2 separate regions of the Homo sapiens genome follow, and region 2 is linked to region 1. The links come from fine-mapping of genetic effects on gene expression. Tissue or cell type: whole blood. Region 1 holds a variant in brackets; the other region holds the start of a gene. All regions are shown on one strand. Distances are between the middles of the regions.

What was found. PIP is the estimated chance that this variant, and not a neighbour inherited with it, causes the effect.
Region 2: it holds the start of ORC5, and the variant in region 1 is fine-mapped to the expression of ORC5 in whole blood (TOPMed, PIP above 0.99).

The regions. Positions count from the first base shown.
Region 1 is chr7:104,137,031-104,145,140 of GRCh38, forward strand. All of the region lies in intron 12 of ORC5 (origin recognition complex subunit 5), which reads right to left. Among named protein-coding and RNA genes, the nearest start is that of ORC5, 67 kb to the right of the region's middle. The variant A/G (reference allele first, on the strand shown) is at 3,908.
Region 2 is chr7:104,203,189-104,211,298 of GRCh38, forward strand. ORC5 (origin recognition complex subunit 5) reads right to left here and starts at 4,825. Exons shown (of 14, transcript NM_002553.4): 1 at 4,645-4,825; 2 at 954-1,046. The coding sequence starts at 4,716. RefSeq lists enhancers at 4,484-4,673, 4,714-4,793, 4,844-5,003.

The sequences.
Region 1 (8,110 bases):
TCTGTAAATACAAATTTGTACATATGTTTTCCAGTCTAACAACCAAGACTAGTTGTCAGAGTCCTAGTTTTGTTTTTTTTTTTTTTCTTAGAGATATGGTCTCGTTCTGTTACCCAGGCTAGAGTGGCATGGCTTGATCACAGTTCACTGGAGTTTCAAATTCTTGGGCTCAAGTGGTCCTCTCAACTCAGTCTTCCCAAGTGGCTGGGACTACAGGCACATTTTTTAAATGTGCCTACAAAAAAAAAAAAAACAATTTTTTATTGTTTTGTAGAGACAGGGTCTCACTGTGTTGTCCAGGCTGGTCCTGAACTCCTCGCTTTGTGATTCTCCTGCCTTGGCCTCCCAAAGGGTCGGTGATACAGGAGGGGGGCAGGGAAGTGCTGGGCAGAGAAGGCCATGGTCCCTGGCTAGTGCTCCACTCCAAGTCTGAGCCCACAGACCTAGGTAAGGGCTGGCATTTCAGTTTTTGTGCCTAAATATTACATTTTCCAAGACCACCCTGGCTACCATGCCCCCATCCTGTGCCTATAAAAACCCCGAGACCCTAGCAGGTAGAGATACAAGTGGCTGGACGTTAAGAGGAATACACTGGCAGAAGAACAAGCAAGCGGCTGGACATCGAGAGCAACATACCGGCAGACACCAGCAGATGCCAGCAGGCCACCTACGGTGGGACAACACAGAGTTTGGCCAAGAGCGGCTAGACTTCAGGGGAAAACCACCTTCCCACTCCATCCTCCTTCGGGCTCCCCAACCATCTGCTGAGAGCTACTTCCACTATTCAATAAAACCTTGCACTCATTTTCCAAGCCCACATTTGATCGGATTTTTCGGTACAGCAAGGCAAGAACTAAGGATACAGAAAGCCCTCTCTCCTTCCAATAAGGCAGAGGGTCTAATTGAGCTAACACAAGCCACCTATAGATGGCAAAACTAAAAGAGCACACTGTAACACGCCCACTGCGGCTTCAGGAGCTGTAAGCATTCATCCCTAGATGCGGCCGTGAGATTGGAGCCCCACAACCTGCCCGTCTGCATGCTCCCATTAGAGGTTTGAGCAGCGGGACACTGAAGAAGCAAGCCACTACCCCTGGAAGGGGGACAAGGGAACTTTTCCTGTTTCACTGGGATTACTGGTGTGAGTCACTGCACTCAGCCCAACCAAGATTCCTAGCTCAACAACTGATTCAAACAATCAGTCCCTAAGAATTCCACTAGAGACAGCTTTGTTTCATTACTCAGACACATGACCGCTAAACCTTTAAAAGCTGCAAATAAAGCACATTCCTCCTCTAAAAATTTTACAGAATATCTATCTAAATAACTCAGAATATAAAATCTATACTCCTTTGGGTATAAAACAATAATATGGATTTAGGTCTTTTTAAGAGTTAGGTAGCTGGTTAGATGAGAGATAAGAAATACATCCTTCAGACCTGGGCTTAGTCTTGGTTTAAAACTTTCTTTCCTTCTTTTCTTTCTTTTTTTTTTTCTGAGGCAGGGTCTCACTCCATTATCCATGCTGGATTGCAGTGGCGCAATCATGGCTCACTGCAGCCTCAACCTCCCCAGACTCAGGTGATCCTCCCACAGCAGCCTCCTGAGTAGCTGGTACTATAGGCACATGCCACCACACCCAGCTAATTTTTTGTATTTTTTGTAGACATGGGGTTTTGCCATGTTGTCCAGGCTGCTCTTGAGCTCCTGGGCTCAAGTGATGCACCTGCCTAGCCTCCCAAAGTGTTGGGATTAGAGGCGTGAGCCCCCGCACCCAACCATTGCTTTAAAACTTATTGCTGATCGTGTACTCAGGAAAACACCAGAAGGATTATTAGTAAAAGCAAAAGTGTATTTTGATAGGTCAAAATCAAAGTACAAAATCACTTAACATTCATATGGCCAACTAAAATATTAAGTTCTCTGAAATCTAAGAAAGGAAGCTGATCCAAGAGCTGAAATTCTTTGAGCGCCCATTGTCTTCTCCTAATTTCTTATTTTTGTCTCCCATAAGCCAGCAGGAAAAAGAGTCAGCAATGGCAGTAAGATAAAATTTGGAGACTTAGTTACCTGTAACTGCTCAGTGGCAATATGAATAAGAGTTTTAAGTTAAACTATCTGTAATACCTAATCATGTGTCTTAGGAATTAAAATGCTCACTTAATTTGAGACTAATACTTTACAAATGCTAAGTAAACATCCCATGAATAATAAAAACACTAACAGCAGTAGTAATTTGCTTGGTATTAAGTACTCTATACACATTATCTCATGTTATTCCTCATTACCTTCATGTCCACAAGGTGGACATTATTATACTTTTTTTTATAGATAAGCCTTAGAGATCTTAAGTAACTTTCTCCATATTCCAGATCTACTGGCTTAGCAAGAATTCAAGAAACCATGATCATCTTACTATATTACATTTCCCATTACCATTTTAAAGGGAAAATTATCATGCAGTATTTAGTCGATTACTTTACTAACAAATTAAAGGGTGAACAGATAATAAATATCTCATATAGAGTATCTTATGTAGAGAAAATCCTATATTCAGTAAATAAGAAATATTTCAACTAGAAAAGCAATTTATATTAATACATCAAAATACAAAGCTCTGCATTCAAAAGGCTAAGACTTTAATTTCTAATTCAGTATCAATAATTAGGTTACACCTTGAAATATCTTTTATAAATATTGTGCGTTGAAAAGAATATGTATTTTGCAAATGTTATGTTCTTTGTTACATGTCTATTGCTTTGTTACATATATGTCTATTACACAAGACACATATGTAACAAAGACATTATTTGTATTGTTAAATCTTATATACACCATTTTTAAAATCTGCCTGATCAAAACTGAGAGAGGTATTAAAATTCTTTTGTTATCATAGAATCTTTCTGCTTTGTAGTTTTTAAGCTATGTTACTAGGTAACATACATACAGATTTAAAATTACGTTTTGTTGACAAACCTTTTCATTATAATAACCCTTTTATTCTCCAGTAATGTCTTAGCTTACAGTGTATTTTTTTCTAATCTTAATATAGCTATATTAGCATTCCTTTATGTGCTCTGCCTTTTTCTGTTACTTTTCATGATTCTACTTTCAAGGTTGATGTTTTCTCAATTTAAAACAGTTCTCATGTAAATAACATATAGTGGGATTTTGTTTTTATAATCAGTCTGACAACTTTTACCTTTCATTAGGACCATAGACTCCATTTGTTTTTAATATATCTAATGATTTTCTAAAATTTTTCTTTCTACTGTTATATTGACCTATTTGTCCCTCCTTTCCTTTTTCTCATTCCTTTCTTACCTTTTGTTGTAATTATATTTTCTTATCTCTTTTTACTTTCACTACCTTGTAAGTAGTTCTATAGTCCTTTTAATTCGAATGTCCATTTTGATTTCTTTTTCGGCTCTCTTGCTATTTTGGAAGTCCTCCTTTATTTCCAACTTACAGAGTTTTTCCAGTTTTTTGTTTTGTTTCTGGGGGATCACAGAATGTGATCTGCATACTAGCAATCCTCTGAAATTTGTTGAGGCAGCTAGGTTCTCTGGGAGGAAAGAAGGGTGCATGGGAACCTGGGTGTCACTGTGACAGAGTGAAAATGACCATGGTGGCCACCCTGCCTGTTCTGCCCACCAGGCCCCTTCTTGCTTTATTCCAAGAATGTCTCCAGCTGATGACAACAGAGCACAAAGCATGCCCACCATGTGGGATGACTTACCCCAGGCAAATGAGGTAGGGTGCAACAAGAGTTTTTTTCTCTTACTTATTAAGGTATCTACATAATATCCTACATTTTGCCTTTTAGCCTGCAAAGTCTAAAATATTTACTATGTATCCCTTTACTGAAAAGGTTTGCTGACCTCTGCATTAGAAGATTGCTAGATTC[A/G]AATTGTTAATTTAACCAACATTAAAACTAAGATGTTTAGTAACTTGATCAAAGTGGTAATGCCCAGATGGTGCCAGAAACTCACCTGACTAGGAATTAAATCTCCTAACTCCAACTCCAAAACTTTTAAAAAACATGCATAAGCTGTGATCACAGCTAAGAAAGTGCAGATCTAACAGATGTATTATACTCCGGCCTGAAAAGAGTGTGTGCTAAAAGAATTAGGATGATCTGCAAAATAGTCATAAAGGGAGCATTCAACAGAATAAACCCAGCAGTATGCCTCTAGCACTAAGATACAGGACTCTTTGCCCATTAACTTAGAAATCTGGTATATGCTACAAATTTGTATTCACCGTAGAGGTGGAGCTGCCTGGCTGTCACTTAAGGTATTAAGATCATCCAATTACCTCATTCCCACTCTCACCACTGGGCCCATTCAGATTCCACACTTAATCTTCTGATTTCAGAAGAGAGAGAACATAGTTTAAGAGAAAAAAACATTTAAAGTTAGTAAGATCTATCTTTTGCCACTTGCTAGCAGTAGACTTCAGACTGGTCAGTTCAACAATGTGGACCTCAATTTTCAAAACCAAAAATCATCATAATAATCTTTCAGCCACACAGGGATGTTCTAAATATTTATAACTATAAATGAGCACCAAAAAGCTGTTAGAACTAATAAATGCTTTCAGTAAAGTTGCAGAATACAAAAATCAACAAACATGTCTATACACTTACAATGAACTATCAAAAAACGAAATTTAAAAAAATCTAACTTACAACAGCATCAAAAAGAATAAAACATGTAAGAATAAATTTAATCAAGAAGGTGAATTATTTATACACTAACAACTATAAAACACTGATGAAAGAAATTCAAGACGACACAAATAAGTGAAAAGATACCTGTGTTCAAGGACTGGAAGAATTATGATTTTTAAAATGTCCATACTACCCAATGCAATCTACAGATTCAATGCAATCCCCATCAAAATTCCAATGGCATTTTTCACAGCTAGAGGTATCACAATTCCTTATTTCAAAGTATATTATTAATACAAAACTACAGTAATCAAAACAGTATGGTAATGGCATAAAAACAGACACACAGATCCACAGAACAGAAAGTCCAGAAATAAAACCACACATATAAGGTCAACTAATCTTTGACAAGGGTACCAAAAATACACAATGGGAAAAGGATAGTCTCTTCAATAAATGGTACTGGAAATATTGGATATCCACATGCACAAAAAATAAAACTGAACTCTCATCTTACACCATACACAAAAATTAATTCAAATGGACTAACGACTTAAATGTAAGACATGAAACAATAAAATTCCTAAAAGTAAACGTAGGGAAAAAAACTCCCTGATATTAGTTTTGGCAATGATTTTTTTGGATAGGCTGCCAAAAGCACAGGAAACAAAAGCAAAAATAAACAAATGAGACTACATCAAACTCAACAGCTTCTTCACAGCAAAGGAAACAACCAATAAAATGACAAGGCAATCTACAGAATGGGAGAAAAAAAATCAGGTAAATCAAATGGCATAAACAAGATAATAGAAACAAAATTATATTAACAATTGTATTAAAAGTAAATGAAATGCTTCAAATAAAATAAAAAGACTGAAAAAATCAAACTGCATTTTGTTTAAAAGAGATACATATAAAATGGAAGCACATGTGAAAGTTAAAGGTCAAAGACAAAATTGAGATATGTCACACAAATTCTAATAAAACGAACAATGATGAAAATATGTTAAACATCAGACAAAACAGACATGAAATGAGGTTTAAAGAAAGGTTCACTTAATAATGATAAAATGCAGGCCCTGAGCTCGTATCTCTTAAAAGATTAATTGTTTGACACCTTTACTATGAAAAGAAGAGACACAGAAAGGATGGACAGCCAAGGGATCCAGGAGTCTTCGTGGGAGAGTAAGTACTGCTAAAACCCAAGACAAGACAAATTCAATAGCCTTCCCAGTGTGGAAACAGGTAGAAATCTATAATGACAGTAGGCCTGAAATTTTAATGAATGGGAAGATATGTAGTGAAGAGTGAACATAGTCTTTTATTGCTAAGTATATTAACTTCAACCCTTTCTATTTTTCTGTAAGGGATTCGTTTGCTAAAATAGGTTAGTAATAGCTATTTGAAAAATCATGCATTGAACTCTATTATTAAAGGCAGTTCCCCTTAGTACTTTTTTTTTAATACAGAAGAAAACATTAATTACCCTGTACTTTGCCACTGACATTTCCTTATAATATTTCTCATAACTGATACTTTCCTGTTAATTCGAACACTCACATATTTAGATTCTTTAATCGAAATTGTATGCTAAATTACTTTTTCCACAATTTTTTCATAGAAAAACACAAAATCTGTCTTTAATATAGTTAAGTTAGGGTCTCAAGAATATTTTCAGATGCCTTACAGTTTTTTACTTTTAGCACATTAGTTGTAACAAATGTCCAAAGGCAGAAAGTTGGAACAAACAAGCCCTTGAAGTCACTTTCAGTTCTACCAAGATTCCCCGGCTAAATTAATCATGTAAATTGTGCAAAGAATATAATATCACTTCAGCTGAAGATGCAGCAGCTAAAAGGAACTTCCAAAATATTAATAAGATGATTGATCAATTTTTTTAGGGGTAGGGATGATTTAGGAAAAGCTAATACATTAAAAGAACTAAACCTAAAAAAAGCAATTAAATTAGAATGTGATTTTTCACATTAAAAAAACTCATTTCAGTCATTTGTTGACTTTATCATGTGAAAATCACTGAAAAACTCAACATAAAAATATTCATATATATAAATTGTACACAAATATACAAATAATAGATATTCAGAAGAATATCTATTACATAAAGCAGTGAACAGGCCGGGTGCGGTGGCTCACACCTGTAATCCCAGCACTTTGGGAGGCAGAGACAGGTAGATCACTTGAGGCCAGGAGTTTCAGATCAGCCTGGCCAACATGGTGAAACCCCGTCTCTGCTAAAAATACAAAAGTTAGCTGGGCATGGTGGCACGTGCCTGTAATCCCAGCTACTTGGGAGGTTGAGGCATGAGAATTGCTTGAACCCAGGGGGTGGAGGTTGCAGTGAGCTGAGATCGCACCACTGCACTCCAGCCTGGGTGACAGAGCAAGACTCTGTCTCAAAAATAAAAATAAAAATAAAAAAAGGAGTGAACAAATGTACCAAATATTTAAAGGTACTTTCCCAGTTTATTAAAATTTTGCTAGAGTAAAATTGAAAACAAAATCAAGCACAAAGATTAATTAGTGGAGTCAACATTTTGAATCTCAAACGTATTAGTTTATTAACTTACTAAATGAAAACTACTGGAAAAATACATATAAAACTTTAAAAATTATTTCTATATATGCATAAATAGCAGAATATCCACCTTCCTTTCTATTATCCAATCCTTAAATTGGCTAATTTTTATTTCCAACTATATATCCATGAAACTCTTGAGGACTTACTCTAGGTACTGTGCATTTAAAAATGAGGCTGGGAGCAGTGGCTCACACCTGTAATCCCAGCACATTGGGAGGCCGAGGCAGGCAGATTACCTGAGGTCAGGAGTTCGAGACAGGCCTGGCCAACAGGGCAAAAACCCGTCTTTACTAAAAATACAAAAAATTAGCCGGTCGTGATGGCATGTGCCTGTAATCCCAGCTATTCTGGAGGCTGAGGCAGGAGAATCGCTTTAACTTGGGAGGCGGAGATTGCAGTGAGCTGAGATCGTGCCACTGTACTCCACCCTGGGCAACAGAACGAGACACCGTCTCACAAATAAATAAATAATGAACAGGATCATAAAAAATACTTATTTACTTCCTTGCTCCACTTTAAATGTTCATGACAATATGAACTCAGATCTCCAGGCTAGTATTAATACCTATGTAGTCTGATATGGTCAGTGTGGATCTGACAAAAAGTCTCTAGACAATGAGTACTCAGATTCATCGTGGTGTCTCAGTTTCACATGCATGCATGTATATGCATAAATAAGGGAGAGGTGGGGCCGAGCCTTTCCCATCTAACTGCCTGAGACCTTTACTATACAGGAAAAAGACACAGAACAGGATGGGCAACCAAGGGATACAGGGGTCTTTGGGGGACAGTAAATATTGCTGAAAACCAAGATAAGACAAATAGCCTTCTTAGTTTGG
Region 2 (8,110 bases), 66 kb after region 1:
TTCAGTATGCTATCCTAAACGTGCATCCTCAGTGCTAGAGGAGGACGGGGTTAGCAAGCCAAAGCCTGTGGGCTAGCCACCTGTTTTTGTACATACTGTTGCTTTGAAACACAGTCATGCCCATTCACATAGAGAATGCCCATGGCTGCTTTCACAATACAGTAGAGTCAAGCAGGTGAGACAGAAACTACGTGGTCCACAAGCACAAAATGTTAGTTATCCGGCCCTTAAGAAAAAGACTGCCCATCTCTGGTTTAGGATATGAAAGGGAGTATGGCAATACTCATCAATAATAGCAGCTAACCTTTATTGAGTGCTTACTACGCACTATGTACTGCAGAAAGCACTTTCCATGTGCTAACATTTAATTCTCTTAATCCCAAATGTTGTCACTATGAGCCAACTTTGCAGATGGAGAAAGCACTAACTGGTGAATCCAAAAAGGAACATGAGTCTGCCAGACTCCACAGCCCAAACTCTTAACCACTGTGTTATGAAAGATAAATTCAGCTCATGAAAGGTCTTATACAATGGGCGAATTACTTGAACACTGTCCTGAAAATATTAAGATTTGCATGGCCTAGCTGCTGGGTGAAGATTGCAAATAAGAGGCTTACAGAAATACATGGAAAAAAAACAATGGTAAATGAAAATCCTAGCAGCAATGGCTAGGATTAAAGGTAGATGGAGACATGATTTTAACAATGTGAAGCAACAGACTAAGTTTATTGATGTGATTTACTAAATGAGGGAAGATGAGGAAAGAGTTAAGAAAGTGCAAGTTTGGACAACTGTGTCAATGACAGTAGACCATTCATGGAGAAAGATAATATGGGAAGGAGAGTAATGTAAAGGTGGTATGTTCAATTTTGCATTTGTGGAGATTCACAATTATCAGTACCAATATTATACACTAAAAATGGCAAAGAAATATTTAATATTTTTATTCTTACCTCTAAAGTTTTCAACAACGTTTGTGTTACATAGGTCTTTCCACTAGCAGTATGTCCATAAATAAAAATGGATGGAAAGCTGAAATGATGTCTCTAACGAGAGAAAAGACAAATATGAGGCTGCACATACAAAATAGAAAATAAACACTTATCAACTTGTGAGAAAGTTGTACGTGGAAAAGTGAAATATTCAATCCAAATTCCTAACAATGAGCATATTGTGGATGCATCAACACACTTTGAACCTACTTGAATTCAACTCTAAGCACTTTCTTTGTTATGAAATTAAAATGTATGTAACATATTTGGCATATTTTATTATGTACTATATATTTATATTTTTATTATCGTACAGGTTTACATATACAAACTAGTATTTTCAACTTCATAGCAGATTTAAGAGATTTTTCAAGGATAATTTTGTTCATACTCCATTTTTATATTACTCCTTCTTAAAGACTCTTATCTCCTGCGATGCCACAACTTCACTATACATTTTAATGCTATGAAATAAAGTACATATAATCAAAAGATTAAAAGGAATTTCAAGGGTCCTCATTCTTAGGAAAACTTATAGACTACTTCTGAACTATGCATACTCACTGATGCTGGCATAAATGCATACATTAGATCACATAAAACACTAATAAAATCTGCATAGCATTTATTTTAAAATACATATGTGCAAGATCCTCTTGCAGTACATTAGGTTAGCAGCTTAGAGAAAAGTAAATATTGTCAAAGGTCTCTCTGGTCTAGTTAATACTACAAATACTTGTACTTCATTCCTTAAATGAACGCTTTCATTAGATACCTACTAAATGCTGAAAACCATGAGGTACTGAAGAGAACAAATAACAGTAAAAGACATTATCTACTTTGGAGGAAATTATAGTCTACATTTTTAAAATAATTACGGGAAAACTTGATTTTTTAATAATACTCTTTTTTTTTTTTTTTTTTTTTGAGATGGAGTCTCACCCTGTCACCCAGGCTGGAGTGCAATGGCGTGACCTCGGCTCACTTCAACCTCTGCCTCCCGGGTTTAAGCGATTCTCCTGCCTCAGCCTCCTGAGTAGCTGGGATTACAGGTGTGTGCCACCACACCCAGCTAATTTTTGTATTTTTAGTTAAGACGGAGTTTCACCATGTTGGTCAGGCTGGTCTCAAACTCCTGACCTTGTGATCTGCCTGCCTCAGCCTCCCAAAGTGCTGGGATTACAGGTGTGAGCCACTGTGCCTGGCCTATTTTTTAATAATACATTTTTTTAAATAATTACAAGAAAATGGGATTATGCAATTTCTATCAGAAAGTTAAGTCTCTATTAATTATCATCGATTACAGCAACAGTCACAAACATTTATTACATTCAAGTCACTAAGTTAAACATTTCCTTTTACAAGACAAATCAGGAACTCAGATTTACGCAGGAAAAAGACTTTCTAAATGGCATACAGCTATGGCAAAAGCAGCTCAACTGCTAAAAATAGACTAAAAATTTACTTGAAATGAATAGGTAATGTAATACATGAATCTTTTTCTGAAGTTTATATGTAACAATCATAAATTAACTGGCCCAAAAATTCTGTCTCAGCAGGATGCAGTGGCTCAAGCCTGTCATCCCAACACTTTGGGAGGCCAAGGCAGGCAGATCACTTGAGTTCAGGAGTTCGCCTGGGAAATACAGTGAAACCCCATCTCTACAAAAAACACAAAAATAGCCAGGCTTGGAGGCAAACACCTGTGGTCCCAGCTACTCGGAGGCTGAGGTGGGCGGACTGCTTGAGCCTGGGAGGCAGAGACTGCAGTGAGCCAAGATCATGCCACTGCACTCCAGCCTGGGAAAGAAAGCCAAACCCTGTCTCAAAAAACAAAAACAAAAAATTCTGTCTCAAGAATTAAATGCATGTTGCTGAGTATCTCTGCTATCCATTACATGTTGTTGCCTAATAATACCTTAAACATCTTTTCTATTGTGACCTAGAATTATATTGAACTGTTCCACTGTTATTTAACCTTTCACCTTCATAAATCTCGCTAACATAAACTGCAATAAGCTAGTACCTGACACAGAAAAGGTGCTCGGTAAATATTTATTTATTGAACAAATAAATGAGTATTCTTAGAAACATGAACCAATTTTTTATATTTCTTTGCTATAGTTGTTTGTATTTCCCACATGCACAGCACCTTGCAGAAAACTGATATTAAAATATTGTTAAACATAATTTTCATTAAAAGCAAAGGTCAAAAACTCTTCTGTGATCCACCACTAAGTTTACTCATCCCTATTTGCCAATTTGCTCTTTCAGCAGGAACATTTCTGGCTGGAGTGATCTGCGTTCCATAGATGAAATGCAGAGAACATAATCAAGAAAATGCTCCAGTAATAATATAACTATAATTGAAAGCAGTATAAATAGAAAATTAATTGAAGATGCAGTTGTTGACCTCTAACTTCCCTAAATAATGCACCCCTTTAGACAGAGGGTAGTACTTTTCCACTAATGCTTCACAGGCCACCTCAAATTGCCATGCAATATTTCTAGTTGGATGAAAGTACAGTCACGTGTACATTCAAAGATGGACCACATATACAACAGTGATCTCATAAGATTATAATACCCTATTTTCACTGTACCTTTTCTATGTTTAGACACTTTTAGATGCAGACTTATCACTGTGTTACAACTGCCTACAGTATTCAGTATAGTAGCACCGCTGTAGAGGTTTATAGCCTAGGAGGAACAGGCTACACCATACAGCCTAGGTGTATAGCAGGCTACACCATCTAGGTTTGTGTAAATACACTTTCTGATATTCACAGGGATTAAATTGCCTAACGATGCATTTCTCAGGACGTATCCCCCTCACTAAGTGGCAGCAACGCATGACTGTACTTAAAAAAGCAAACCAGAAGATGGGGGTATGAGTATGACCCTGAATTCTCATTCACTCTCTTCGCAGGTAAGATCCAAGTTTGATTAATTCCAATTCTGATTGAGTCTGAATCAAAAAGCACATCAAAGACCACCAGAAAATAGTCAAAAATAGGTTAAATTTTGAATTGGTGAACGCTACCCTCTGCCTATTGAAAGGACTCCCTACGTATCTATGTTCATCCAGACAAGACAAACTCCTCTCTAGGGCATCCTGTGAACTATCAGTTAAGGAGAAAAGTTTACCCTAGACCTCTTCTGGACTGTTACAATTCTGGAAAAGCCAGTAAATTTTTAAACCTGAAGCACTGCTTTGGCCCTTAGTGGCCTTGAAAGCAACCACCTCTCTACACTTGACTCACTCCAACTACCGCACAGAAACGTGTGAACTTACATTTGAATAAATAACACCCTGCAAACACATCTGTTACATAAATGTCATTGGGTTGGGGTAAGATAACAAGCAACTTCTAGGAGCTAATGTGGGCAAACTTCTGAAAAGTGTGGCGTGTTTCAAATACGTCTTAGGCAACGTCCTATAGTGCAGGCCGGTCGCTCTCAGACTGTCTCCTCTTCAATATTCGGAAGAGACTGTGGGTGAAGCTGCAGTACAGAACCACAACACCCCTATTTAACGTAAAAACGGCCTTTTGGCCCTCAATCCAAACACGAAAAAACAAATATTGGAACAGGTCGCAAGACTACCGAAACGTCTGCCTCCAGGATCTGGAAGACAGTTTAACTACAATACCTCTCCAAACAAGGACTGCAAGATGGACACTTGAGACTCGCGACAAAGCACCACGTTTTCCAAGTGGGGCATTCTGGCAGGCACCACCGCAGAGGCCAGTGCAGCCAGCCCACAGGACCCTTGCACAAGACGGAGCCTCTCCCGAGTCTGGCGGCCCACGCTCCCGCCGGAAACCGGACCCGCAGCGTCGTGGGAGGAGCCTGCGCTGCCGGGCTGCGGCGTGACGGCAGCGCGTACGCCGAGCGTCGCCGCCGCTCTAGTCTCAGGGCCGGAACCATCCTCTTCTCGCTGGTCCTGTGCGCGCCGAGGTTTTGCCCATTCTTGGGCTTGGTGGGGATTTCGGGCTGACGCTTTTTCCACTCAAAGGCTAAGGAGACGACATGGAGATGGGCGAATAGGGAAGGGGTGGAAGGGGTTAAGGGGGTCCCGTGGGCCTCCAATGACCCCTGAACCCCGTGCCTTTAGTTTTACCGGCTGGAAGCCCCAAGTTTAGAAACCTTGAGTGCCTAAGAAGACGGACCCGGAGCTGGGGCCCTTAGAGGGACGTGGAAGGCGGACTTAGAAGACTAATATTGTCAAAAGATGTTTTTGTTGTCGTTTTTTTCCCTGACGACGTTGTGGGAAATTAGTGGCATTGAGTACAAAACAGGGTGTAATGGGGTTTAATGCACAGCTTGGAATTACTATTTTTTGTGCAAGCTTTAAACCAGATGTGGAAAGCCTCTCAGTCCTAATGGGATGAAGTCGTAGTGTGTGTTGGTGAGGTTGATAGTAAAAATAATGCTACTTTTAGCATTAGGCTTTCACGTGTATTTATTTGTGAGGCACCTACTAGCGACTAAACACTAGAAGATTCTGGAAATAAGATACAGAAGTAGGCAAGTGCATGGTGGAAAGAGAGCTTGGCGTCCTGAAACCCCTGGGTTGGGACCACTGACTGACTCAACTGCTGAATAGGGGGACTTTGGAATAGTTGAGCCTCAACTTCCTTATCTATAAAATAGGGATAATACTGGCTAGGTTATTGCTAGGAGTAGAAGATCCTGTACATACTACCTGTTATACATAAATTTAAATTGTGGACTTCAATCTGCCCATAGATTGTAGATCAGTCTTAGATTTGTGATGGTCAAAAGGATCTTTTGAGAGTTGTGGTATATAACGTATTAGCTAGTCAAAATAGTATTTTCACAGCAACAATTCAAAAGCATTTGCCCAGGTACTTTTTAATAGAGAATTCTAAAGGTTATAATGGGACCACCCATTAAATTTCAATGTCTCCAAGGGAAGCTGGCCTCTGATACTCTCCTAAGATGGTTATACGTCCGTAACATACTGTGCATATAAGGTATACATATATTATAATCATAACACGACATCTTTATAGCATTCAATAAAACTGACTAAACTGTCTAAAATGTTAGTCTCCCTCTCTATATACTTTATGAGGACAGGAAACACTGTCTTCACAGTTCAATTTCCAGCATACACAGTTAACGCCTGGCAGTTACATAATAAAGATAATTGTTGATCTGAGAGAACATGCCTTACCATCTGGATGATTTAGGATGGTTTCTCAGAGGAGAGAACCTGGAAGCTGAGGCTGAAGAAAAGATTCACCTGTGAGACCAAGAAGGAAATTGTAAACAAAAGAATGTACAGACAAAAAGGGACAAATGGGCAATCCCATAACTGAAACTAGCAAATAGTTTTTACATATAAACCTGGAGAGTAGTAGGAGGTCAGGCTGGGGACCAATAAAGAATTGTAGGCAGAGAAGCAAATGTTGAGATTTGACTTAGAAATATTCCTTCTGGCTACAGTGTGGAAAGTGGAATCAATTTCATTTGTTGAAACGACTATTGCAGTCTCCCAAACAGTGAATAATAATGGCCTCGATAGGCAGCCAAGATGGCCGAATAGGAACAGCTCTGGTCTACAGTTCCCAGCATGAGTGATGCAGAAGACGGGTGATTTCTGCATTTCCATCTGCGGTACTGGGTTCATCTCACTACGGAGTGCCAGACAGTGGGCACAGGATAGTGGGTGCAGTGCACCGTGCACGAGCCAAAGCAGGGCGAGGCATTGCCTCACTCAGGAAATGCAAGGGATCAGGGAGTTCCCTTTCCTAGTCAAAGAAAGGGGTGACAGACAGCATCTGGAAAATCGGGTCACTCACACCCTAATACTGCGCTTTTCCGACGGGCTTAAAAAATGGCACACCAGGAGATTATATCCTGCACCTGGCTCCGACGGTCCTACGCCCACGGAGTCTCGCTGATTGCTAGCACAGCAGTCTGAGATCAAACTGCAAGGAGGCAGCGAGGCTGGGGGAGGGGCGCCCGCCATTGCCCAGGTTTGCTTAGGTAAACAAAGCAGCCAGGAAGCTAAAACTAGGTGGAGCCCACCACAGCTCAAGGAGGCCTGCCTGCCTCTGTAGGCTCCACCTCTGGGGGCAGGGCACAGACAAACAAAAAGACAGCAGTAACCTCTGCAGACTTAAATGTCCCTGTCTGACAGCTTTGAAGAGAGCAGTGGTTCTCCCAGCATGCAGCTAGAGATCTGAGAACGGGCAGACTGCCTCCTCAAGTAGGTCCCTGACCCCTGACCCCTGAGCAGCCTAACTGGGAGGCACCCCCCAGTAAGGGCAGAATGACACCTCACACAGCCGGGTACTCCTCTGAGACAAAACTTCCAGAGGAATGATCAGGCAGCAACATTTGCTGTTCACCAATATCCACTGTTCTGCAGCATCCACTGCTGATACCCACGCAAACAGGGTCTGGAGTGGTCCTCTAGCAAACTCCAACAGACCTGCAGCTGAGGGTCCTGTCTGTTAGAAGGAAAACTAACAAACAGAAGGGACATCCACACCAAAAACCCATCTGTACATCACCAGCATCAAAGACCAAAAGTAAATAAAACCACAAAGATGGGGAAAAAACAGAGCAGAAAAACTGGAAACTCTAAAAAGCAGAGTGCCTCTCCTCCTCCAAAGGAACGCAGTTCCTCACCAGCAATGGAACAAAGCTGGTCGGAGAATGACTTTGACGAGTTGAGAGAAGAAGGCTTCAGACGATCAAACTACTCCAAGCTACAGGAGGAAATTCAAACCAAAGGCAAAGAAGTTAAACACTTTGAAAAAAATTTAGACGAATGTATAACTAGAATAACCAATAGAGAGAAGTGCTTAAAGGAGCTGATGGAGCTGAAAGCCAAGGCTCGAGAACTACGTGAAGAATGCAGAAGCCTCAGGAGCCAATGTGATCAACTGGAAGAAAGGGTATCAGTGATGGAAGGTGAAATGAATGAAATGAAGTGAGAAGGGAACTTTAGAGAAAAAAGAATAAAAAGAAACGAACAAAGCTTCCAGGAAATATGGGACTGTGTGAAAAGACCAAATCTACGTCTGATTGGTGTACCTGAAAGTGACGGGGAGAATGGAACCAAGTTGGAAAACACTCTG